Linked DNA regions of Homo sapiens. The protein of the gene in region 6 purifies or fractionates together with the protein of the main gene of each other region. This does not show direct contact. Each region holds a gene or a part of one and is shown on either strand. Other genes may lie near its edges.

Region 1 (3,320 bases), on a different chromosome or scaffold from region 6:
CAAGGATCGGTCTCAAAATAAAAAACAAAAATAAAAAGAGAGAGATTTGAGTGTGGACACAGAGCCAAACCATATTACTAAATATTGTTAAGCTATCCCAACGGGCATATTAATAGGGAAGCCAGCGGGTGGGGAACTAGGACAAAACTGTTCCTTGTTAAAAAAATGTCTGGGAATAGCTAAAATAAACCCAGTACAGCATCTCAATCCTGGCTACACATCAGAATGCTTTGAGATTAAATGCCTCACACTGTTTAGAGGCAGGCAGGATAGGCAACCACTGGAATTAAAAAACCTTTCATATGAAAGGATGAGGTTTTTGACACAGAGTCCTCCCTATACACGCATTCCCCTAACTTACTTGACCACAGAACTTGGAGAAAACACAGCTAAGAAAATGCTGCTCCAGATAAGAAAACTATGTTGAAAACATGGAAATAATGGATCTGTATATCATACAATGAAAACTACACAAAAGAAAACACACATGAAGATGTTGCTGACATGAAAACCTTTCTTTTTAATTTGGTTGATACACATTTGACAAAATATTTTAGAATAAAATAATCCATGAACAGGTACAAGGTATTTACAGTAACATAATTGAAAAACATAAAATCGATATATTTCTTTAACAGAAATGTCTATAAAATTTTCTACTGTGAATCTGGAAGACTTTCAGTTCCTACTTATCAACCTGGTCTTAAGCCCCAACAGGCGACATGTAAGGCCCAGGAGTAGGATATACAAACTCTAACACATTTGGCAATTAAGAATCATCTATTAGTGTGAGCTGGCAGGCGGTGGGTGGGGGGTGGGGATGGGGAGGGAAGAACCAGATCTTAGGGTAAGATACAGAATGGAAGACTCCACTGAAAACAACTATGGACAAGAAAGATCTAAAATCACACTTATCTTTCACTTGTCTCCTGTGGGAGAAGGCTGCAAACTATTTTAAAGACTTAGTCAATTTTTCCCATTAGCAGAAAATCAGCAACCCTGAGACTCCAACATTTCATGACATAAAAGCTAATAAACATCTAGAAGCTGATTAAGATTTATAAACTAATTTTACATCAGATAGAAAATAACTCTTATGATTTAAAAATACATGTAAGGAAACAAAATTTCTCAAATTTATTTTTCATGCCTAATTCTTAAACATTTCAACTAATATTTTCTATTGTCTGAAATTAGTTCCACACACAGATACACTTTAACTGAATGCTTTGAGTACAACTTGCTCTTGATTATTAAATGGAATGCCTACTTCCTTGTATTATTATTCATACATATTTAAAAGAAATGAGAAGTTTAATCCATCTGGACTATACAGAAATTTATTGACTTACAAGATAGTCACATAGACAGAGACCAGAAAAAAATGATCAAATGCTCATTCTTAGTAACACAACTGAGACAGTGAAACACGGTACACCATACATGTCATCTACTGATCCAACTATGCTATCTGATAAGCTATACTTACAAAGAATGGTTCCAACAAACACCTTTGTAGAACAAATATTCACACTGTGTTATCAAATTTGCTGCTCCTCCAGTGGCGGTTCAAGAGCTTCCATTAGCTTTTTATTTGCCTCTTCATTATGCCGGCTTTGACAATGAGTTAAATGTTTCTTAAAACCTCTTGGGAAATTTGATTCAAAATTACAACGTGGACATTTAAGTAAACTTTGCCCATGGGCTGCTACATGATTTTTAAGGAGAGATTCCAAAAGAAAAGCCTTTCCACAGATTGTGCATTTGTAAGGGCTATGAACATTATGCTTATTAACCAAATGATGCAAAACAGCACCTTTTTTCATAGCACGACAGCAACAAATTTTGCAATAATACTTTCCTTTTCCACGCTTCATGTATTTTGCAATCTCCTCTTCAGAGATAAAAGCTTCTTTTTCTTCAGTAAACTGTAGCACATTTCTAGACTGCTCTGGACTAGTCATGTCCATTTTGTTCTCTTTGCTAAAATCAATGGATTCCACATCAACCTGCTCTTGATCACTGCTTGATTCCTGGCCCTTAATATCCATCGCATCCAAATCTGTTTTTATGTACTCACTACTACTAAGCTCAGCGTCTGAGCTCTCTTGGTTGTCTTTCTTGAGCTTCTTTGAGGAAGGAAATAAAGTATCTTCTAAGAGTTTCTTAGGTGAAGCTAGAAGTTCTTCCTGAACCAAAATATCACATTTTTGATCATCTATGGCATCTATTTGTAGTTCATCACCAAGCTCAACAGCCTTCTGTGATTCTGAGAATAGAGCAGATTTGGGGAGTTCAGGGAAAAGGGCATGCTTCCGGGGCTCTGGAAAAAGGGCACGTTTGCGTGCTTCTGGAGAAGCAGGAGGGGCTGTTTTGGCAGGCTCGGGAAACAGGGCAGGTTTTCTAGGCTCAGTATCGATAGAGAGAACAGGCTTCCAGATATCTGAGGCTGCTTTGGGGGACTCAGATGGCCCAGAAGGACCTGGTTTTCGGGTCTCAGGGAAGACAGGTTTCTGAGGCTCAATAAAAAAGGAAGACTTCCAGAGATCAGGAGAACCACCACGGGAACTTTTCTGGGACTCAGGGAAATCAAGTGAAGCAGGAGAAGTTTTCCGCTGATCAGGAGAAAGCTTCCAAAGATCTGGTGACCCTGAGGGTTTTCTGAGCTCTGGAGATCCTGCTGGACTACGGATCTCTGGGGATAGTGGTGGGCCGGGTTTGCGAAGCTCTGGAGACACTGGGGGAACTGCCTTCCAATGTTCAGGAGACAACGTGGGAGCTGTCTTTCGGAGTTCTGGTGGGCCAGACTTCCATGACTCAGGAGATGCAGGGGGAGACTTCCAGGAGCTGGGTGAGACTGATGAAGATTTCCAGGATGCAGAAGACACAGATGGAGTTGGTTTCCAAGGTCCAGGAGATACAGAAGGAATTGGTTTCCAAGGTCCAGGAGACACAGATGGAGCAGGTTTAGCTGGCTTCCAAGGTCCTGATGATGCTGAAGGATTGGATTTCCAAGGCCTAGGGGACCCAGGTGGCCCTGGTTTCCAAGAGCCTGGTGACACAGCGGGGGCTGGTCTCCTAGGCTCTGGGGAGACAGCAGGGAACGGCTTCCAAGGTTCAGGAGACTCTGAAGGGGATGGCTTCCTTGGCTCAGGGGAGGTAGTCCGGGCTGACTTCCGAGATTCTGGAGATGCAGCTGGGGATGGTCCCCAAGGTTCTGGGGAAGCAGCTAGAACTGGTGACTCTGGAGATGAGGCTGAAGGTGGCCCCAATGTTTCCGGGAAATGAGACTGCTTCTGGGGTTTGGGATTACTAAGAGT
Region 2 (3,500 bases), on a different chromosome or scaffold from region 6:
GACCTGAGACCCCCCAGTGTGGGAGAAGAAAGAGTGGGATAAACAGACCCCACTTACCTTGTTCCTCATCTCCAGTACTTCCTGGGGGTCAGTATAGAGAGGCACAAATTGGTTTGGGTTTTCGATGCGAATCGGCATGCCACTGCTGGATTTCTCCACCTCGTCAGCCTTCATCCACTGCACAAACACAAGGTCATGGGGCTGAGGTGAGGGAACAGGCCCATGAGTCCTCCCCAGTGGTCCACCCACGAGATCTGGGCCCAACATCCTGCATGGAAGGTCAGCAAGCCTACTCATAGACACTCTCTCTTCTTAGGCCTCTTTGATGTCTGTCTCCAGGAGCAGAGAATGGCAACAGATGACCCAGTTACCAATGAAGGCCCTCAGGCCAAAGGTCGGCTATAAAGAACATCCAAGAGTTGGGGTCAGAACCTTGGGAACCAGCTTTGATACACAGGCAACCACTTGGGCTTCAGTATTAGGTAACTTGATTTGAGTTTGGAGAGCTTCATATTGTTTTATGAAGAGCTATTCTATTTGGCTGTTGGCTACTTTTATGTTAATAAAAAATTGAGAGCCTGTGGGTGGGGACAGGGAGAGAAAATATAACTTCATAGAAGTGGCTGTACAGCCCACCTCCTGGGCTTGCATCAGATCTGAAGTCCCAATGTTAAATGCTCCTCCCTTGAATTTCCCAAGAGCCCCCTGTGGATGTGGGAGAAAGAAGCACAAACCAACTGGTTCTGGGTCATGTGCCTGGTCCAACTGCCCTCTGGAGAAATCTGCTCCTTAGACCCAAAAACTCAGGCAGAGGTGCAAGGAAGAAGTGGTCAGGGGCTCAGTGGGCCTGAGCAGCTGCTCCCAGAGGCCTAATAGGAAGCCCAAAGAGGATGCTACTAACCTGGGGCAGGAGAGGTTTGTTCTGTTCCCGTTTTAAAAATGCTTCACCCTGCTAATGCAGCCTGCCCCTCTCTGCCCGGGTCTGTCCTGGGCTCCCCCTTACCGTGGTCTTGGGTCGGGGGCTGCCCATGCTCCTCTGGACCTCATCGGCCACATTGACCCGCAGGTAGGTGTTGGGCGTATTGAGCCAGCGGGTCTTCTCCTTCTGCTGCTTCTGGGCATGCTGTCGCAGGGCGGGCACCGGGGCACCGTCCTCCTCAAACACGAAGGCTGTGACCGTGGCTGGAATCTCCACCTCACTTTTGTGTTTGGTTTTCTCTTGAACAAAGGGGTGGCGATACGTGTAACCTGTTCTGTAGCCCTATAAAGGACAAAAATAGAACCACTTATGGGGTGAGAAAAAAGGCCTGTACCTGCACATACATGCACACACACCTTTCCTTCCGTCTGCTTAAAGGACTCTTCATGTAAACCCAAATCTCCATTAAACAATCTAGGCTTTCCACTCTTCTGGTATATTTCAGAACTGTTCCCTCCTCCTGGTCCCCCATCCCCTCTCTTTCTCTACCCCAACAAGTCCTCTGATCAGGGCTGAGAAAATCCCTAGACCTTTGTGGACCAGATAGACAGAGCTCCTCATCCAAATGGAGCCACAGATTTCCTCTGGTCCAGTGGCTCCCAGCCCTGGCTGTACACTAGAATCACGGGGGGAGCTTCACACAAACACTGATGCCTGGGCCCTGATGCAGAGTTGCCCATTTAATCAGATCACAGTGTGGCCTGGGCTACAGGATCTTTAAAAGCTTCCCAGCTGATTTAACAGTCACCCCTCCCTTCCTTGACTGTGAAACTTCTTAACAATTTCCTTCTAGGAACCCTGAAATCAGACTCAAGAACATTCCTGTCTCCTAAGCAAGGCCACATCCCCTCAAAGCTGGAGCTGACTGCTTCTTGGAGAGAACAAACATTCTGGAATCTTGGCAGCTGTTGGAGCAATATTCAGCTCTCTTTGTCTTCTTTTATTTTTAAATTAAAATGACATTATTTTTCTGATTATAAAGGAAATACAGATCCATGTAGAAAAATTAAGCAAAATTAAAAAAAATAAGGAAAAAACGGAATTTTATGCAAACTCTCACCCCAGAGACAATCACTAAAAACCTTTCCAGTCATATCTCTATGCATATACATGTGTGTCCATATATGTTTGATACTAGTAAAATGGATATTTCCAATTACATATAATGGCTACTTAACTATTTTCCTTTGTAAATTGTTTATGTTCTCAGCCCATTTTTCTATTGATGTTTCTGTTTTTCACATTGATTTGTAAGCTCTTTGTAAATTAAGAATATTAATTTTTTCACTATCATAGATGGTGAAAATATTTCCCTCCATACTTTGTCTTTTACCTTGTTTATGGTGGGGGAGTGGCTTATAGAAATGCAAGTTTTGAATTGTTTAATATCATATCTATTAATATTTGTCAAGATTGCAGCCTTTTGTGCCGTGCTTGATAAGTCTTCCCTAACACAAGGGCATCAAAAACATAAGTCTATGTTTTTTAATACCCCTATGAGTTCACTTTTTATGTTTACCATTTTGACAAACCAGGAATTTATCTTGTTGAAATAAATGAAGTAGCATCTGCCTTAGCTTTCCTTCCCAGATGGCAAGTAGTCTATCTTTCCCTCACTGATTTATAAAGTGCCTGCTTTTCCTGTGTTAAATTCTCATATATTTTGGATCTATTTCTGGATTCTCTAAGCTGTTGCATTGTTTTGCACATCCATTCTGCTAGTGCCACGCCATTTAGTTGCCAAAGTTTTATCACACTTTGTCATGAGGTGGAATTAGTATTCCTAATTACTTTTCTTTTTATAACATTGCCCTAGCCATTCTGAATTTCACATGGAAGGATATTTTGTCAAGTCCTCATACCTTCCCCCATTTTTGAAAGAAATCCATTGACTTTATTGATTAATTTTGGGGAAGTAACCTCTTTACCCTATTGAAGCTTTCTAACCAAGAATAAATTATAGCTCTTCACTGACTTCAGGTTTTCTCTGATGTCTATTAATAAAGTTTTATGGTTTTAAAAACACGGATTATGCTTTTTAGTGTTTTATGATTGTGATCCATTTGCAAATAGGATTATTTTCTCCCATTATTATATTTTCAAAGTAGTTAAGATACAAAAACTACTGATTTTTGTATATATTTGCATAATTGTCCACCTTAAACTGAAATCACCTTTGCAAAATTATGACAGTACTCTATCTTGCTTCTAGCCTCACAAGCTGGCTGGCTTTGCTCATTCCTGGATGTGAGCCAAACTAACTTCAGGAGAAATTTAGTTTATAGTGTAAATGACGATAGCCCTTCCCAAAAACTAAACTATCCTTGTAAAACTGATGAAAGACCACCAAGTTAGGAAGAGGAAAGGGGCCTGAATTTTACTAAAATGTAGGCATAGTTAAATAATTACCAGCTATTATTCCAGAGGTCACACGATTTGCAACTTCCCCAATTACTCCTGTAAATAATATCACTATTATAGAACCTAAAATTGGCCTTTGGAGGTATCTTTTCAGGCTTTC
Region 3 (3,996 bases), 420 kb from region 6:
CCAAAGTAGAAGCATTGTGCTCAACAGGTTTCCTAGTCTTGCTTAACTATATTAACTATATGGCAGTTAAATCCTCAGCAGAATTTCAATAGTCTCCGAGTGAGCGCACTAAGAATAACTTGACCTGAGGCCGGGCAAGGTGGCTCACGCCTGTAATCCCAGCACTTTGGGAGGCCGAGGCCGGCGGATCATGAGGTCAAGAAATTGAGAACAGCCTGGCTAACATGGTGAAACTCCATCTCTACAAAAAATACAAAAATTAGCTGGGTGTGGTGGCGCTTGCCTGTAGTCCCAGCTACTTGGGAGGCTGAGGCAGGAGAATCGCTTGAACCCAGGAAGGCGAAGGTTGCAGTGAGCTGAGATACTGCCACTGCACTCCAGACTGTGGACAGAGCGAGACTCCGTCTCCAAAAAAAAAAAAGAATAATTTGACCTGTGTTTGAGGGTGGGAGATATGAGAAACTTCTCACTTTAGCAGGATATGCTGAGGGTTAAGATATCTCTGGAAAATCTCCAAATGCTATGTCATCAACTCATTAAAGACAGAGGCATCTCCAAACCTGTACAGTCTTGTCACCTCTCAGACATCAGAACTGCAGAGTGGCAAATCCAGGTAAGATTCAAAACCCAATTCATGCATTCACTGTACATTTATTAAACACCTGTAAGTTGTCAGGCACTGATCTAGGGACTGAGAATATAAACATGATATATGGAAGTATACCCATCCATTATTATTTACCTTTATTATGCCCAACCTCTCAAGGGTGCAGGCAGGAAGTTCTTCTCCTGTTGCCTAAGGAGCACCAAATAAGTCTCCATTCTCATTTCTGTGCCTCTGATCATGGGGTACCCACCTGAAACATGCCCATCATAACTCACCTACCCAAATCCTCACATCCTTCAAGGCCAGCTTAAGTCTCCCTCCTTTTGGAAGCCCTGACTTCCACTCCATCCCTAAATGATGTCTCTGTTCTCTGAGCTGCTAGCAATTACAGCGAGTAATACCATCCACCATCCATTTATTTAGAAATTTATTGTCCTGCAACTGATACTTTTATTTCTTCAACAAATCTTAAGTACCTACTTATATTGCTTTTTAAAATCTTCCTGTAAAGACCTGGGTTGGTACTCAGTGCTTAATATCTATTAATAACAATTTATTAGCGCCTTAGGCTTATATGGTCCAAGCTCACTCAAACTGAAGTTACATAAAGTAATGGGGAACAAAAGCTAACGAAGGCATTTCTAAATGAACTTCCACTTCTTAAAAACCTCAAAAGAACAAGGAAGGAAAAAGAAATCAGGCTATGAAAGCGCTGCTGAACTAACACATTTAACTCACACTAACAAAGCACCCCCAATCCCCCTTCGAAGCCACACAAAACTGATGTTTTTCCCTCGGTCCTTACAGCTCCAGATTGAAGCGTTTAACAACAGACCTTGGAAAAGTTTACAGCATCCTTCGGTTTCCTAAACAAGTCTCTCTGCCTTTATTTCTAGATGAATAAGCCCCTGGATGAATCCTGCATATGCCACTTAGACTAATCCAATGAGGTTCACTACAAGGAACTACAATTTGAACTTCAAGCACAAGAGAGGCTCAAAGACGAACATCTTGAAAATGATACATCCAGAGGCAATTTTAATAAAACAAAAGCGAGGGGCCAGGCGCGGTGGCTCACGCCTGTAATCCCAGCACTTTGGGAAGCCGAGGCGGGCGGTTCCTGAGGTCAAGAGTTCGAGACCAGCCTGGCCAATATGGTGAAACCCCGTCTCTACTAAAAATACAAAAATTAGCCTGGTGTCGTGGCGGGCGCCTGTAATCCCAGCTACTTGGGAGGCAGAGGCAGGAGAATCGCTTGAACCCGGGAGGCGGAGGTTGCAGTGAGCCGAGATCGCGCCACTGCACTCCAGCCTGGCTGACAGAACAAGTCTCCGTCTCGAGGGAAAAAAAAAAATAAAGCGAGGTCCTGTGTAGCCTGGTGGAAGGTTCCAAGTTCCTCAGAGAAGAAAATCAATAGAATTTCCTCCAGAGGAGCCTCGAGATTCTACAAGGCGTAGGAGTTTCTGCAGGAGGTGAGGGAGATCTCATATATATATATATAAGATATACATATTTGCTCTTAATTGGCTTTTGTGAGCTACGATAGCTGGCACCCTGTAGCGAGCGAGAGTGAACCCTGGCTGTGCCATGCGGCGGAGGCTGCCACCTGGGCACTCCCACCATTCTTCGCAGCCGGGTCAGAACGGGAGACCAGGCGAGCCCGGAGCAGCGTGGACTCGGACCTGCGCGCCCTCCGGTACCCTGGCCCGCGGGCCGCCTGCCTCGCCCCGGGCACGCCACAAGCCCACCCCGCCCGAGTCTCAGGACCCCCGATCTCTCTGGGGACCCAAGAGACGGGTGGGGGAGAAAGGGTCTGCAGGCAGCGGCCCGGCCCTGGCGCGTACCCACCTGAGCAGACTGGAGAGGGGGTGGCTGGAAGAGCCGAGGCCGCCGCCGCCGCCGCCGCTGCCGCCGCCGCCGCCCCCAGAGCCACCGCCGCCGCCGCCCCCAAAGCCTGAGGAGAGCCGCTTCCCGGACAGCAGCTTCTCCACCGCCGGGAGGTGCCCGGTGCGGGCCGCCTCCAGCAGCTCCTGCTCCTTCCCCATCCCCAGGGCCGCCACCCGCTGGACCCCCTCCCCGAGGCTGCAGCCGAGCCTGCTCGGGCTCCCAAACTTTCCGTCTCCGGGCAACGCACCCCCCAAACCGGCTGGGGACACCACCCCCTCCCTGCCTTTTCCCCACGAGCGCGTCACTTCCGGGATCCGGCGTCACGCGTCACCGCGCCCCCGCGCCCCGCCCCCTAGCTCACCTAGCTGGGCGGGGCTCCGCGGACCAGCGCAGGTGGACTTTGCTGTGCCGAGACACGCCTCTCGGGGCATGGGGACAGCGCCTTGTGGGCCCCCATTATGCAGGTGGAAAGGGACAAACAGGCCCACCTGTACGCGCCTCCCGAAGTGCGCTCCTTCCCCAAAGGTTTTGGGAGCTCCTGGGACAGGAAATACGGTAATTCGTCCAGGCAGCGTAGAAACAAAGAGATAAATGTAACGCGCACCTACATTTCCAAGTCCATTCTTTCAGCACGCATAAATTAAATATGTAATAGGTGCGGGGACCTAGTCATACCCAGGTGAATAAAACGCCCTCCCCCTCGTATCTCAATGAGGGAAGAGAAGAAAATTTTAAAACAGAAATATCCTCACCACTTCATCCTCCCAGTACGTGAACTAGTTCATTAAAGTGAAACGTTCAAAGGAGACACCTTCCTCTCTTTAGGCTTTCCTCTTAGTTTTAATGAGATTAACCAAACTGATAGAAAAGTGTCAGACTTGTAAAAACAAACCTCAATCTTCAGTACTGGCGAACTGAAAAAAATCATTTAATTGGGTAGAAACTATGTGTGTTTTGTTCCCTGGTACTAGCACTGTTTCTAAATCGAAGTAGGCAGTCAATAGTTGTGGATGAATAAATGAATTGGATAAATTCTGCTCGAGCTATATGACTTTTTGTTGTTAAGGTGCTTGCGGAATGGAGGGGAAATGCTAGCAATTCTATGTACACACAGGCCCGCGGTTTCGGGCCAGTTGAAATATACAAGGTTGAGTCCTTGCCTGAAAGTTTACCAGTCCCGGGGAGCCTCATTCCACGACACCGCCATACAACGGAACTGAGTTTTCTCCCAGTCCCCCAACTTTACTCTGAGGGGTTAACGAAGGGATTAACTGACATTGCATTTTTAGACAGGCGAAAAGGAAAAAGTTATTTAGTAAACAAAACTGCGCTCCTTCACAAGTGCTGGTTTCCTAGCGAGGAGGATCCATAGTCTGAGCTCTTTACGTCCAATTTTCCCGCTTCCCACTGTCGCCAAACCAAAGTTAAAATGAGTCCTCTAGTCCTCTACGCGCGCCTCAAAATGACCCCTCAGGAGAGCGGTAGGGGTGATGTCATCGCTG
Region 4 (3,500 bases), on a different chromosome or scaffold from region 6:
TGCTCAGGTCTAAAATTTGGAGTCCATTCTTGACTCCATTTTCACCCTTCTCCCCAGATCCAACATCCAACTCATGTCAATCTTAAACATCTCAGTCAATTCTATTCATTCTCATTCAGATCTCTCTTCTCATTCAGACCATCATCTTTTCCTTAATCTAACTCCTTTTTCACTAGTTTCCTTACCCCTGAGCTTGTCCCTCTTCAATCCATTTTTCACTCTGTCTTCTGAGTGATCTTTCTAAAACATAAATATGATCATTTACTCCCTAAAAGTCCCCTCAGCAGCTCCCCATTGCCTCCATGGTGACAACAAATTCCTTAATATAGCTCTAGAGCCGTTCTGACATTGTCCTTGGACTCTTTAGTTTCATCTTCCTTAACAATCTCTCAAATTCCCTATTTAACAGCCCTTCTTTTACATTCTCTATGGCAGAAATAACCATGCATACCCCCAGCTTTCACCTGTGGAGAAATTATTTTTATACTTCAGGTCTCCACATACACCTTCCTTCTTTCAAGGCTTCTCAGAGTTTCTAAGGTAACTGCTCCTCCTTTGTATCTTACACATTCCTTATCACAGCAACAATCACCCTGGGTTGTAATTTTCTGTTTACTTGTCTGTTTCCTACATGAGATCAGCTCTAAGAGGACAAGAATCATAATGTCTTGTCCATTTAATATTTTGTTTACATGTCTCTTGTACTTAGCACAGTTCCTGCCTTGAACAAAGAGGAGGTTCAAGAAGAAAACTAAATATATCAGTTAAATAAAGGTCAAAATACTTGAACCATATCCTGATATTTTTTTCCTTTTGAGCCTCAATATACTATCACATTATGTCCCTGATATTTTGTGCAGCTCTTTAACAAGCTTCCTGTCTATCAAATTCACTAACATTCTTGTAAGGCAAATGGGAAAAAGGCCTAAAAGAAAAAGCAAAGAAAGGAGTTATGTTAAAAACACAAAAATAAATAAGAACCTTCCCTTTTTTATTATAAAAAACATTTATGTATTTTTCCCTACAATCAAGTAATTGTTTACACAATGCGACTGCATAACCCTTAAGGATCCTACAATGCACCAACAAAACAGAAGATGCTTAGCAAAAAAAACACAAAAAACAAAAAGGGTCTCACTCTGTCACCCAGGCTGGAGTACAGTAGCACAATCTTGGCTCACTGCAACCTCGACCTCCTGGGCAAAAGCAATCCTGCCACCTTAGCCTCCCAAGTATCTGCGACCACAGGCATGTACCACCATGCCTGGCTAATTCTTGTATTTTTTGTAGAGATGGGGTTTTGCCATATTGCCCAGTCTGGTCTTGAACTCCTGAGCTCAAGCGATCCCCTGACCTCGGCCTCCCAAAGTGTTGGGATTACAGGCATGAGCCACTGCACCAGGCCCACTTTATGTTTCAAAAACAAAATAGCAGGAAATTCTCTATGGAGCCTTAGGATGTGTGACTGATAAACAAGAGAAGAAAATAATCAGAAATTGAAAAAGATGATACAAATAAGGAGGTTTTAAAAGCAGAGAACTAATACTCTCTACTTGATAGGTACTGGGTGAAGGAAGTGTCTAGATTATAAGAATAATTAAATTACTAGTGTAAATAAAATATAACAAAAAATGTAACTTTCTTACCAGAATATATCTTCTAATACGTCTAAAGGTAAAGGATGAGGATTAAACACAATAAAAAGTCTTTCTTTCACAGGAGTTTCAGCAGGAGCTTTTTTTTTGCATGATGGAAGTACAACATCTGTCTGGATTTGAGGCAACTGTGATCCAGAGCTTCCTCCAAATTGCTGTTAACAGGTAGAAAACAAGAAAAAGAAAAAAATGCCCTTTAGGGATTTTTGGCCAAGAGCTAAAGACAGATATGTATCATGGCATCTATGTGGTCTTCCACAATAGCTCTGAAAATTTTCATACACAGATAATCAACAAAGCATGATTTCTCTTCACATTTATTTTATATGCTATTGATATATTATAAAGGTTAAATTCTTACCTACTTACCATAAATTGTTGCTGACTTGGGTTATTCCACACCATTGATGCAAGCTGTGCAGCTACCATCTGTGTTGCCATTTTTCTAAGGAGACTGGAAAAAATAACTGATAATTTACAGAAAACTAAAAATATTCAGTCTTTTAACAGTAGCTTGTTTTGTGTGACTTTCTCACCTGAGAGGTCAATTGTTTCTATTTTTATTCTTCAAGTCCTATCAATCATGTACACTCAAAGCTCGGCTTTAGACACTCCTGGAATGGTACTTACTCTGTTGCATTACTTCCATCATCAATGAAGGAAACACCTATTCGGTTCCCAGGAGGGTACTGAAATCCATGTAATTTGTATTTTGCATAAATAGCTGATGCTACATTAAAATACTGAACCACTCCATGACCTAAAATAGAGAACATACAGAAATGAAAAAGGAAAGCAGACTGAGTGCCTAAGGCCTATGTTACAATCTATCACAAAAATGAAACCATGTAGAACTCTAATATCACACAACTAGTAAATACAGAATCGAATGTATCAGAAAACACAGTTCTGTTATCATGTGTGCAACAGGTGTATTCCTAGAAAAGGAAGAAATAATTTAGGGAAAAATATGAACATGATATTTTAGGGAAAATGGAATATTAACATACGTCCTGTCTAATAAGTTTAGTTTTAGGATACTAGCTTTTCTTATATGATACCAATATACTTAAAAGTCTAAATTTTTATTCTTTGAAATCTACTTTGAAATTTTAAGATTTTCCCAACCATACTGGGTAGGAAATGAAATGAGAAGTGATAGTTGAAAAGAATATATACTCATCCCGGCTATCTGCAGCAGTAGGGAGAGGAAAAGTGATTTGAATGAAAAACAAAAAGATAGGGAACAGAGGATCTCAGATCACAAGTGATATATTTTACTTTCCTTTGGAGAGATTTCTGCCAAAGGGACGAATTTCAATTTAGGAGGGTGATGTTGAAGGGAGGGACAATGTTATAATGCATTCCTTAGAGAGCCCAGGAGTTTGTGACACAACTAAAAGGTTTTCACTTTTATAATACAAACCACTGGGGAAACACTTATAATTTATGTTCATCTGGAAACCCAAGCATCCAACATTTTAATGAAATTAAAATAAAACACAGAAATCAAATGACCATATAAAGTTAATTCAAATGAGATTCGAACTATATGATGACACCTCTATTAATAAAAAGATGTTCCAATGACACATATATTTCAGACACATCCAACCAGAGAAACAAAACAGGAGGTACAGGAACAAATACATTTTGACATACCAGATAAAAGGGAGGGAACAAAACAAAATGAACACAACTTCATATGCATATAACAAATGTGCCAGAGAACACAAAAATGTGTGCCTAGAAGTCTTAGAACAGAGAATGACGCATATGATCGGGTTAAGACTGGGGATGGCTCAAAGACAGTTCTACAAAAAGACTAGTGCTGGGTTGGGTACT
Region 5 (3,500 bases), on a different chromosome or scaffold from region 6:
GCATTTATACATGTCAAATTCTGATTGCTCTGTCATCTAAACACATTCTTGGGGACAAAATGAGCATCAGAGTTTTAAAATTAGGAAAGCTCACTCAAGCCCAGAATCATAGATTTTTGCTCCTGGATTAAATTAGCAAGTATTTGGCAGGACATCTTTCTGCAGGTTGCTGTAGGTTGATGTTAGCTTTTGAATTAAGCTAATAGTATTAATTATAATAATAATAATCAGCATCAACAAAACCAATGAAATATGGTTTTGAGTCTTTATTATTTAGAATTTATGTGCTGTATATCATACTCAGAATTTTATTTATATGTAAGAGGCATTACTGCTTCATTTAACCTCCAAAAGCCTTTATAAATTAGATATTATTATTATTCCAGTTTTTCAGATGAGGAAACTGAGGCTCAAGGGGTAGAGCCCCTTGTCCAGGTCTTATAACCAGTCAGTGGTAGAGTCAGGTTAGTTGGACCATCCAGATTAGTCTAACCATCAAGCATTTGCTTTAAACCGCAGTCCCAGGTGACCTACCAGTTAACTTTTTTATTGTGGTTAAAATACACATAACTTAAAATTTAACTTCTTAACTATTTTCTAGCGTACAGTTCAGTGACATTAAGTATATTCACATTGTTTTGCAACCATTGCCATCATCCATCCACAGGATTCTTCTCATCTCCTAAAACTGAAACTCTGTCCTCGTGGAACATTCGTTCCTCATCCGTCTTTCCTCTCAGCCCCTGGCAGCCACCCTTCTACTTCCTGTCTCTAAGATTCTGACTGCTCTAGGGACCTCACAGAAGCAGAATACAGTATCCATCCTTTTGTAACTGTCTTATTTCACTTAGCATAGTGTTCTCAAGCTGTATCCATGTGACAGCATTGGACAGGACTTCCTTCCTTTTTAAGTCTGAATACTATTCCATTTATGGATATACCACATTTTGCTTATCCTTGTATCTGTTGATGGTTGCTTCTATCTTTTGATTATTGTGAATAATGCTGCCGTGAAGAGGAACACGCAGATATCTGTTTGAGGTCCTGCTTTCAATTCTTTGGGGTATGTACCCAGCAGTAGAATTGTGGGGTCGTAGGGTAATTCTATGTTTAATTTTTTGAGGAACTGCCATATTGTTTTCCACAGTGGCTGGACCGTTTTACATTCCCACCAGTGGTAGAAAGGGTCCCAATTATTCCACATTCTCAGCAACGCTGTCTTTTGTTTTGTGTTTTTTGAGATGGAGTCTCGCTGTGTCGCCAGGCTGGAGTGCAGTGGCATGATCTCAGCTCACTGCAACCTCTACCTCCCAGGTTCAAGCAATTCTCCTGCCTCAGCCTCCTGAGTAGCTGGGACTATAGGCACGCGCTGCCACACCCAGCTAACTTTTGTATTTTTAGTAGAGATGGGGTTTCACCATGTTGGCCAAGATGGTCTCGATCTCTTGACCTCATGATCCACCCACCTTGGCCTCCCAAAGTGCTGAGATTACAGGCGTGAGCCACCGCACCTGGGCTTTTTTAAAAATCTTCTTTATAGTAGCCTTTCTAATTGGTGTAAGGTGCTGATAGTTAACTTTTTACCCAATCATTGAATGCCCAATGGCAGGGATCTCTGGGCTGATGCTACTCCTGAGTTCATTGTTTATTTCCTATCCCAGCTTGAGCATATACACCTTTTTCTAGTGTAGAATTAATGGAGGAAATACAACTCACACAGCACCTGAGGGACTAGGGAAGCCATGGAAAGGACAGTCCCTAAAACATAAACAGAATGTCCCGGTAGGTAGGGTTATCTCCACCTCCATGAGGAACCTTATGATTCAGAAATGAGTAGTTGTTGAGAATAAAGTGAACATGGCATCAGTGTTAATAACCCTGAATGTGTGGGACAGATGCTTTTTAGAAGATTAGTTACAGATATAATTATCTTTTGTATGTTATCAGAGCAGGACAAGTTCCCAGGACAATGGAGAGAATGGAAAGGGAAACTGCTATTGAATTCACCAGGCCTTTGTTGCAAGCCTCAGATCACACACCGTGCTGCAAAACCCACAGGGAGATGTGGTCAGGCAAATAGGAAATTATAATGAATTGTGATGAATTCATGAGATATTTGTACTATTTTGTATCAGTTTATAATGTCATGCAACTCTGTTTTATATTTGCTAGTTTCCTTTCTGTCTCTTTTTTCCTCTAGCATGAAACTCCATGAGGGCTGGCATTTTGTCCCTACATGTGTCCCCAGCCACTCTAACAGGGCCTGACACATACCAAGTTGTGAACAAATATGTGCAGAATGATTGTGTGTTTCAGTAGGGGACACACTTGGTATTATGTGCACAGCTAGATTTGGGGTGTCGCAGAGCTGTCAGTGACGGCTCAACTGAGACCTGAAGGGGAAGTGGCAGTGAGCCAGATGGGGGTTCTGGGAGGTAGGAACAGTGTTTGTAGAATGTCCCTGCAGCATGTGAGTCTGGAATCCCAGTGCAGTCCAGTCTAAGCCTTGCAGATGAGTGGAAATGAGCAGAGTAAGCATCACAGCTTCCATTTAAACCTCTGCTCCCCATCCTAATTTGCCATATGACCTTAACCAGTGAACTTCTTGGAGTGTCATTCTCTCCATTTGCAAAGTGAAGAAAATTGTGATCTCTGATAGCAGTGATGCTGCGAGAAAGGAGCATGTGCCAGTGTGTGGGCTATTGCTGGGTGGAGCTGGAGGAGTCAGCTGTGCCAGATCACATAGGACCTGTAAGCAGGTGAACCATATACGTTATCCTCCAGATGGGGACTGTTTATAGAGTGAAAGAGCACGTTATTAATCACTAAGCTTGGGTAACAGGTACAAACCCAGATTGTCCTGGGCAGACTGTCCCGTAGAGTTGTCCTGCGTTAAGTCATACGAAGGAGTTTGATCCTTTTCTAAGAACAGGAGGAACCCTTTAAATGCTTTATCTACCAATGTATACAAGTGCCATTCAGGTTCTCTCCAGCGTTTCAGAGAGTTTTACCTGCCCATGAACTCACAGCACTCGGCTTGCACTGCAAACTCACCTATACGTTGGCAGCTGTCTCCTCACTGGGCACTTAATTCATGAACAACTAGGAGGGAAAGACAACAAGACAGCCAGGGGTCTGCTCTTTGGCTCTTTGCATTTTTTTTTACGGGGTCTTGCTCTGTCGCCCAGGCTGGAGTGCAGTGGCACGATCTCAGCTCACAGCAGCCTCCGCCTCTGAGGCTCAAGGGATCCTCCGGCCTCAGCCTCCTGAGTAGCTGGGACTACAGTTGCATGCCACCATGGCCTGGCTAGTTTGTGCACTTTGTAGAGATGGTGTTTTGTCATGTTGCCCAGGCTAGTCTCTAACTCCTGGGCTCAAGTGATCTGCCCGCCTTGGCCTCCCAGAGTGCTGAGATTAAAGACATGAGCCACCACACCTGGCCTAGCTCTTTTCGCCTTTAACTGGAGTGTTAGCTGATATCAAGAACACATCTTTTGGGT
Region 6 (3,500 bases):
TTGAGACTTTGCCTCAGTGTCCTCCTGGGGCTCAGTTTTCCTTGGCAAACTGGGAAGTGGGAGATCCCAGGAAGGGAGTATTTCCTTTTTTTCCCTCATTTCCCTCTGGGCAGTTATCCCTGGAGTTTTTGGTTATGTGAGCCAATAAATCCCCTCTCCCTTAAGCCATTTGAGTTTGGTTTTATCACTAATTCCAGGAAAGTCTTGCCTAACACATCTGTGGTCATAGAATACCAATCCCCACTCTAAGGGGTGCCACTGGCTCAATGCCTAGCACTTAAAACCCAGGGTGACCACCTCAAGAGAATAATGCCAACATCCACTGACCACTTCTGAAGTGACAAGTGTTCAAGTTTTATATATTCTCATCTGCTGTCTCTTGGCCTCTTTTCAAACTACCCGTGTCCTTATCTTTTTTTGAGACGCGTTCCAAATCTGCCGCCCAGGCTAGAGCGCAGTGGCGCGGTGTTGGCTCACTGCAACCTCCGCCTCCCAGGTTCACGTGATTCTCCTGCCTCAGCCTCCTGAGTAGCTGGGATTGCTGACGCGTGCCACTATGCTCGGCTAATTTTTGTATTTTTAGTAGAGATGGAATTTCGCTATGTTGGCCAGGCTGGTCTCAAACTCCTGACCTCAGGAGATCTGCCCGCCTCGGCCTCCCAAAATGCTGGGATTACAGGGCGTGAGCCACTGCGCCCGGCCACCCCAGCATTTCTAATCATCCAACCTACAGACACTCATGGGAGAGATACAAGAATGCTCATTAAGCATTGTTTATAATATGAAAAAATGGAGACAAACTGAGGCTCTTCCAGTAGGAAACAGGTATACCATGTCAGGAACCACTGTATGTAGCTGGAAAGATTTCACTTTTCCCACTTGTGTGCTCATGGGCAAATGTTTAATTCTCCAACACCTTAGTCTCCTCCTCTGTGAGGATAATGATAGGGTCTGCTCCAAAGGCTGTTTTGAGTGAAGAGTACCTGGTGCATAGTGCACTGCTTAATAAAAGTTGTGGGTGATCTTTGTTATGTTTATATGAACAGACATTGAAAGATATGCATACTACACTGGCATGTAAAAAAAGCAAGCTACAGAATGAAATGTTTGTCAAATACATGTGCAAAGATTAGGTCGAATTATATGAAACTAGTATTTCAGTAGGTCAAAACAATCAAGTGTCAGAAATTTCATATGGTTCAACCTGTTTATTTGTATACAGAAAGAATCTAGAAGACTCACAAACTGTTAACAGTGATCACCTCTCCAGAGTGAGGGGAGAAACTTTCATCTTTTTTTTTTTTTTAAGACAGAATTTCACTCTTGTTGCCCAGGCTGGAGTGCAATGGCGTGATCTCGGCTCACCGCAACCTCTGCCTCTCGGGTTCAGGTGCTTCTCCTTCCTCGGCTTCCCGAAGAGCTGAGATTACAGGCGCCCGCCACCATGCCTGGCTAATTTTTGTATTTTTAGTAGAGACGGGGTTTTGCCATGTTGACCAGGCTGGTCTCAAACTCCTGACCTCAGGTGTTCCGCCCGCCTCGGCCTCCCAAAGTGCTGGGGTTACAGGCATGAGCCACCGCGCCCGGCCAACATTATATTCTTCTTTACTTCAAAATTTTTTTGGGCCGGGTGCAGGGGCTCACGCCTGTAATCCCAGCACTTTGGGAGGCCGAGGCAGGTGGATCACCTGAGGTCAGGAGTTCGAGACCCACCTGACCAACATGTTGAAACCCTGTCTCTACTAAAAATACTAAAAATTAGCCAGGCATTGTGGCAGGCGCCTATAATCCCAGCTACTTGGGAGGCTGAGGCAGGAGAATCAGTTGAACCCAGGAGGCAGAGGTTGCAGTGAGCCGAGATTGTGCCATTGCACCCCAGCCTGGGCAACAAGAGTGAAACTCCATCTAAAAATTAAAACAAAAACAAAAACAAAAAAACAAATTTGGCCAGGCGCAGTGGTTCACACCTGTAATCCCAGCACTTTGGGAGGCCCAGGTGGGCGGATCACTTGAGGTCAGGAGTTCAACACCAGCCTGGCCAGCATGGCGAAACCTCATCTCTACTAAAAATACAAAAATTAGCTGGGTGTGATGGCAGGCGGCTGTAATCCCAGTTACAGGGAGGCTGAGGCAGGAGAATTGCTTGAACCTGGGAGGTGGCGGTTGAGGTGAGCCAGGAAGGATAGTGCCACTGCACTCCAGCCTGGGTGGCAGAGTGAGACTCTGTCACACACACACATACACACACACACCCCCACAAAAAAAAAATTACCACTAACATGTTTTAATTTTATAATAAATTCATTTTTATTTTTGTTTATTTATTTAGAGACGGGGTCTCACTCTGTTGCCTAAGCTGGGGTGCAGTGTCACGATTTCTGCTCACTGCAGCTTCCGCCTCCCAGGCTCAAGCGATCCTCCCACTTCAACCTCCCGAGTAATTGGGACTACAGGCATGTGTCACCATGCTCAGCTAAGTTAAAAAATTTTTTTGTAATACCAAAATTAGCCGGGTGTGGCGGCACACTCCTGTAGTCCCAGCTACTCAGGAGGCTGAGGTGGGAGAATTGCTTGAGCCCAGGAAGTCAAGGCTGCAGTGAGCTGAGATCGTGCCACTGAACTCCAGCCTGAGTGACAGATCCAGACCCTGTCTGGAAAAAAAAAAAAAAAATTCTTTTTTTTCATAGAGATGAGTTCCCATTATATTGCCCAGGCCATGGTGGCTCATACCTGTAATCCCAATGCTTTAGGAGGCCGAGGCAGGAAGAGCCCTCCTGGGCTCAAGAGATCCTCCTGCCTCGGCCTCCTAAAGTGTTGGGATTACAAGTATGAGCTACCACAGCGCAGCCCCGAATTTCTTCATTAACATTATATTCTTCTGTGTGTTTTCTTTTTTTAAACCAGGAGAATATATTGTCTTTAGGATAAAATTTAAAACAATAGGGATGAAAAAGGGTGCCATTAACCCAGTTATTAATTTGCCCTATTAAGTTGCTCTATAATAATATTCTTTTGCTGTTCACTGTTTGTGTGAGCATTTCTGGGTGTTCTACATTCCTTGAGGGCAGCAATGACTCTAATCTCAACCTTGACTCCAAAGATAGTATAATGTCCCCCATTCACTGAATGTTTCTGACTGACTCCTAAAGTCTAACTCAAATGCTCCAATGGTTTCCCATAATTTTCAGAGTAAAAGTTCGAGTCCTTCCACAGGCCTCCAGGCCCCATGTGACCTGGCCTGCTGCACCTTCTCTGACCTCATCCCTCTTGTTTACTTGCCTCCAGCCATTCTGCCTTCTTAATGTTCCTCCAGCAGGTCAGGCATATTCTTGCCCAAGGGCCTTTGCACTTACTGTTCCTGCAGCCTGGAATATTTCTCTCCAGGTCACTGCATGGCTCAAACCCTTTCCTCCTCCCTGTTTTTACTTAGATGACACCTTCTCAGGGAATATATATTCCCTGACCAGGTGGAATATCCTCTGATCACCTTATCTTTTGAG
Region 7 (3,500 bases), on a different chromosome or scaffold from region 6:
CCTGTAGGGCAGTCATAATTGAATTAATGCAGCAGGCAGGACATTCTCCTGTTGAACGCTTATGACAAAAACCAAAAAGGTGCCCAAATGCCCAGGCTGCCCTACACAAGATGGTGATTCCCCAACTCCAGTGGCCCCCGCATGCAGACCTTCTGGGCTTACTGTTTCCTCCCTGCACCATCACTGCCCAACACTACGTATATACTTTAATTCGTGTGTTGTTTGCCACCCTCACTAGATCTAGACCCCTCCATGGCAGGGTTTTGACTGTTTTGCTTCCTGCAGTTTCCCCAGCTACTAGAGTACAGCCTAGTACATGGCAGGTCCCAATAAATTCACTGTGTATGGTGATCTCTGGGCCCTGACATTGCCCAGCAACCCTCCAGGGGCCCCAGTCAAGTCAGTTCTCTGTTCCTGTCCTCTACATGGGCTAATGCATGCTCCCTCTCTACTCGTGCTGCTGCTCCTAGCCAGCCCTCCTCCACTCTGGGCTAGTATTCACACTCCCAGAGAGAAAAGAACCCCAGAAGGTGGCCTTGGCCCTCTGGCCATGACAGCCTGGCCCACCTGTGCAGCGCTCTTTCCTGCTCCTTGCTTCACGAGATGGATGAAGTGCCCTTGTCCTGCTGGACACAGGGATCTCTTCCCTCTTCATTCATTCTCATCTCCACTTGTTCCTTTCTAACAGCTCTGAAACATGCTCACGACTTTGCCACCTTAAAATCTCTCTACTCTGGACCTTGCCCCTCTGGCTGAGAACTGGTCTTCCGTATCTGGGACCTTTTATTGTCCTCACTGGACACTTGGAGCTCTGTGCCTCCTGCTGTGCTCATGGGCATGTCAGTGAACTGACACAGTCATCTGCCAACTTGCCCAAGTTCTGAACCATGTCTATCCTATCTTCTTTGCTCCTGTATCCAAATGGTTACGAAATCTTGGAATCATGCACTGTCATTGCTTTCAAATCCATCATCTCCACCCCAGGCCACCACCGCCACCACCAAAACATTCGCTTGATGTTCTACTGAGTGTGCTTAATATATTTTTTTCTTGAATAGAAAACCACCAGAGGATCCTACTTTGCTCTCACTGGATAATCTTTAGATACAATATTGCACGGTGATAGGGAACTTAAATTATTTTAATGCTATTTGCTATAAAAAACACTACTCGGAGTATTCATGAATATATAATGAGAATAAGCTTTTTTTTTTTTTTTTTTACTTGTAAAGAAACATGAAATACCTTTCCTACCTGGACCAAGCAACGGTGATCGATTCAGCTGAGTACCGGCCTGGTGCGGGGGCGGCGTCTCGACCCTGTGTGTGGTGTTGCTCGTGGTAGTGGTGGTGGTGGTGGTGGTATTGGTCGTGGTACTGCTCTGGATGACCGGGTTGTTTCTATCCCACATGTTTACAGTTTTATTGTTATAGTTGCTTGGGTCCCCCCAAGCTGAGGTACCATCATCAATTTCCATTTTGCGGCGAATGGACGGTGGAGAGGGTTCTTCCCAGCCAGTTGCTTCACTGCTGTCCTTCTGTTTGACCGGTACCGGCCCCCCGATCCACCCTGTTCCTGTCTGTTTCACAGAAGCAGCTCCTCCCCAGTTACTCACATTGTTGTCTTGGGGTTTGCTAGCCCAGTTCTGTTGGGGGCCAGGTTTTAAAGTCTCCCCCCAGTTTGTACCTGGATTGGCCTTTGTATTTGTGCTGTTGCCCCAGCCACTGTTCCCAGATCTCGTGGTGTCATTCCAACCAGACCCTGACCTATTACTGTCAGCATCCCATCCAGATCCATTTTTTTTCCCATCCCCCAAGTGTCCAAGGACAGACGATGAATCTGCCCAATCTCCCCCTCCTGCACTCCAGGCTGGATTTGATCTTTGTCCATCTCCCCAGTGTTGGGATTTGGGCTTTGGAGGCTCACCCCAGGTGGGTGACTTGTCCTCCTGATTTGCGGCCCCACTCCAAGCATGGCCACTCTTGGCAGCAGCAGCAGTACTAACAGCAGTAGAGCTTATCGAGTCCCCCCAAACCCCCGGGCCACTTGGCGCTTTGTTGTTGCTGTCTCCCCAACCTGTGTTTGCTGGCACAGCGGCAGGTGGCGCGTTGACCCACCCAGATACTGAAGAGGTATTTGTACTGTTCATGATGGACCCATCGTTCTTCCCCCCTGAGTTTGAAGCCTGAGTAGCTGCACAACCCCAGGCCTCTGTCCCATTGTCATTTTTCCTTTCAGACCTAGGGGATTCTTCAAATTCCCAGGCAGTGTTTTGCTTTACAGGAGTCTGTCCCCAACCAGTATTAGACAGAACTCTTGGGTCAAGATCATTCCTTGGCAACTGGATGTGCCCTTGGTCTATAATCCCTTTATCTCGCCTTCGGCCTTCTCCCGTTCCTTCCCTCCCAGTGCTTCCTTCATTGTGGTTGCCAGAACCATCACTACTTCCTTCACTTGCTGTAGTTCCAGAAGATGCCGCTTTGGCCCAGGAGTTCATGTGTTCACCACCAGGCTGTACGGTAGGGTTCTGGCTGGTGACACTAGGACTCTCCCACCCTGTTGATCCTTTCCCATTGATGTCACTGTTGGAATGCTGGTTTGGGGGCTTTCCCCATTCCCCATTCACACCGTTAGAGGTGCTTCGGCTGGGGTGGCCCCAAGCTCCTGAATGGATATTACCAACGCCATTGTTGCCACTGCCCCTTCCCCAGGCGAGTATTCCAGGACCAGCAGGAGGTCCTGAATCCCAAGCATTTCCTCCACTTCCTTCCTTTTGCACAGCACTGCTGGATCCATTTTGTTTAGCACTTAATGCTGAGTTCACAGTGTCTCCATTCCCCTGACTGAACCCAGAATTGCTATTTCCTGTGGCAGGGTTACCTGGGGACAGTCCCCACACAGAATTGCTTATTCCTTCAGCACTGCCCCCACTGACTTGAGAAACTGATGATCCATTAGCACCAGGAAGGCCTTGCAGGTGGGGCGGGATGATGGCCCCCATACCAACAGCCATGCCCCAGTTTGGCAGTCCATTTGTCTGCATTGCATTGATAGGGTTGGGTGAAGAGTTCATGGGGTTAGTGTTATTTGGTCCATCAGTGTTAAGGTTCTGAGGTTGTGCGCTGAAAGACACATTCTGAGAAGTGGACGTTTGTGGTTCTGTGCTCTCTTGTGGCAGCAAGTTTCCCCAAGCACCTAAAGTGCCTGTTGGGTTCCCGTTCTGGTTGCCCATATTTTGACCTATGGCACTGACTGGACTGCAAATACTGGAAGGGTTGCCTGTCGCCACGGTTCCTTCATGTCCAAGTACAGGCCAGGCAGCTGGGTTGGCATTAGGATTAAGGTTAAGATTAATGCCAGCATTGGAGTTGGAAGCACCCCAGCAATTCTGACTTCTCCCATCTCCAATCATAGTGTCCATTTTTCCATCCCCACCACTGACAGAGCAGTGAGCCAGGCCAGAGCTGGAGCCTGTGGCTACACCCCACACTCTGGCCGCA

Evidence for each region.
Region 1: the proteins of DEF6 (region 6) and CHAMP1 purify together in Homo sapiens (affinity purification with mass spectrometry; 3 studies listed by BioGRID and IntAct, with this or other methods). This does not show direct contact.
Region 2: the proteins of DEF6 (region 6) and ADD2 purify together in Homo sapiens (affinity purification with mass spectrometry; 3 studies listed by BioGRID and IntAct, with this or other methods). This does not show direct contact.
Region 3: the proteins of DEF6 (region 6) and ANKS1A purify together in Homo sapiens (affinity purification with mass spectrometry; 3 studies listed by BioGRID and IntAct, with this or other methods). This does not show direct contact.
Region 4: the proteins of DEF6 (region 6) and RBM45 purify together in Homo sapiens (affinity purification with mass spectrometry; 3 studies listed by BioGRID and IntAct, with this or other methods). This does not show direct contact.
Region 5: the proteins of DEF6 (region 6) and PRKCQ purify together in Homo sapiens (affinity purification with mass spectrometry; 3 studies listed by BioGRID and IntAct, with this or other methods). This does not show direct contact.
Region 7: the proteins of DEF6 (region 6) and TNRC6C purify together in Homo sapiens (affinity purification with mass spectrometry; 2 studies listed by BioGRID and IntAct, with this or other methods). This does not show direct contact.

Annotation. Positions count from the first base shown.
Region 1 is NC_000013.11:114,324,503-114,327,822, reverse strand, and holds the end of CHAMP1 (chromosome alignment-maintaining phosphoprotein 1), read right to left. Parts: coding exon 1,542-3,320; 3' UTR 501-1,541; downstream 1-500. UniProt on the Homo sapiens protein: Required for proper alignment of chromosomes at metaphase and their accurate segregation during mitosis. Involved in the maintenance of spindle microtubules attachment to the kinetochore during sister chromatid biorientation.
Region 2 is NC_000002.12:70,677,701-70,681,200, forward strand, and holds part of ADD2 (beta-adducin), read right to left. Parts: intron 3,003-3,500; exon of another isoform or gene 1,773-3,002; intron 1,262-1,772; coding exon 1,004-1,261; intron 483-1,003; exon of another isoform or gene 317-482; intron 178-316; coding exon 58-177; intron 1-57. UniProt on the Homo sapiens protein: Membrane-cytoskeleton-associated protein that promotes the assembly of the spectrin-actin network. Binds to the erythrocyte membrane receptor SLC2A1/GLUT1 and may therefore provide a link between the spectrin cytoskeleton to the plasma membrane.
Region 3 is NC_000006.12:34,888,059-34,892,054, reverse strand, and holds the start of ANKS1A (ankyrin repeat and SAM domain-containing protein 1A), read right to left. Parts: upstream 2,801-3,996; 5' UTR 2,653-2,800; coding exon 2,456-2,652; intron 1-2,455. UniProt on the Homo sapiens protein: Regulator of different signaling pathways. Regulates EPHA8 receptor tyrosine kinase signaling to control cell migration and neurite retraction.
Region 4 is NC_000002.12:178,122,437-178,125,936, reverse strand, and holds part of RBM45 (RNA-binding protein 45), read right to left. Parts: intron 2,416-3,500; coding exon 2,286-2,415; intron 2,110-2,285; coding exon 2,025-2,109; intron 1,811-2,024; coding exon 1,647-1,810; intron 1-1,646. UniProt on the Homo sapiens protein: RNA-binding protein with binding specificity for poly(C). May play an important role in neural development.
Region 5 is NC_000010.11:6,573,777-6,577,276, reverse strand, and holds part of PRKCQ (protein kinase C theta type), read left to right. Parts: intron 1-3,500. UniProt on the Homo sapiens protein: Calcium-independent, phospholipid- and diacylglycerol (DAG)-dependent serine/threonine-protein kinase that mediates non-redundant functions in T-cell receptor (TCR) signaling, including T-cells activation, proliferation, differentiation and survival, by mediating activation of multiple transcription factors such as NF-kappa-B, JUN, NFATC1 and NFATC2.
Region 6 is NC_000006.12:35,304,318-35,307,817, reverse strand, and holds part of DEF6 (differentially expressed in FDCP 6 homolog), read right to left. Parts: intron 1-3,500.
Region 7 is NC_000017.11:78,049,203-78,052,702, reverse strand, and holds part of TNRC6C (trinucleotide repeat-containing gene 6C protein), read right to left. Parts: coding exon 1,255-3,500; coding exon of another isoform or gene 1,246-1,254; intron 1-1,245. UniProt on the Homo sapiens protein: Plays a role in RNA-mediated gene silencing by micro-RNAs (miRNAs). Required for miRNA-dependent translational repression of complementary mRNAs by argonaute family proteins.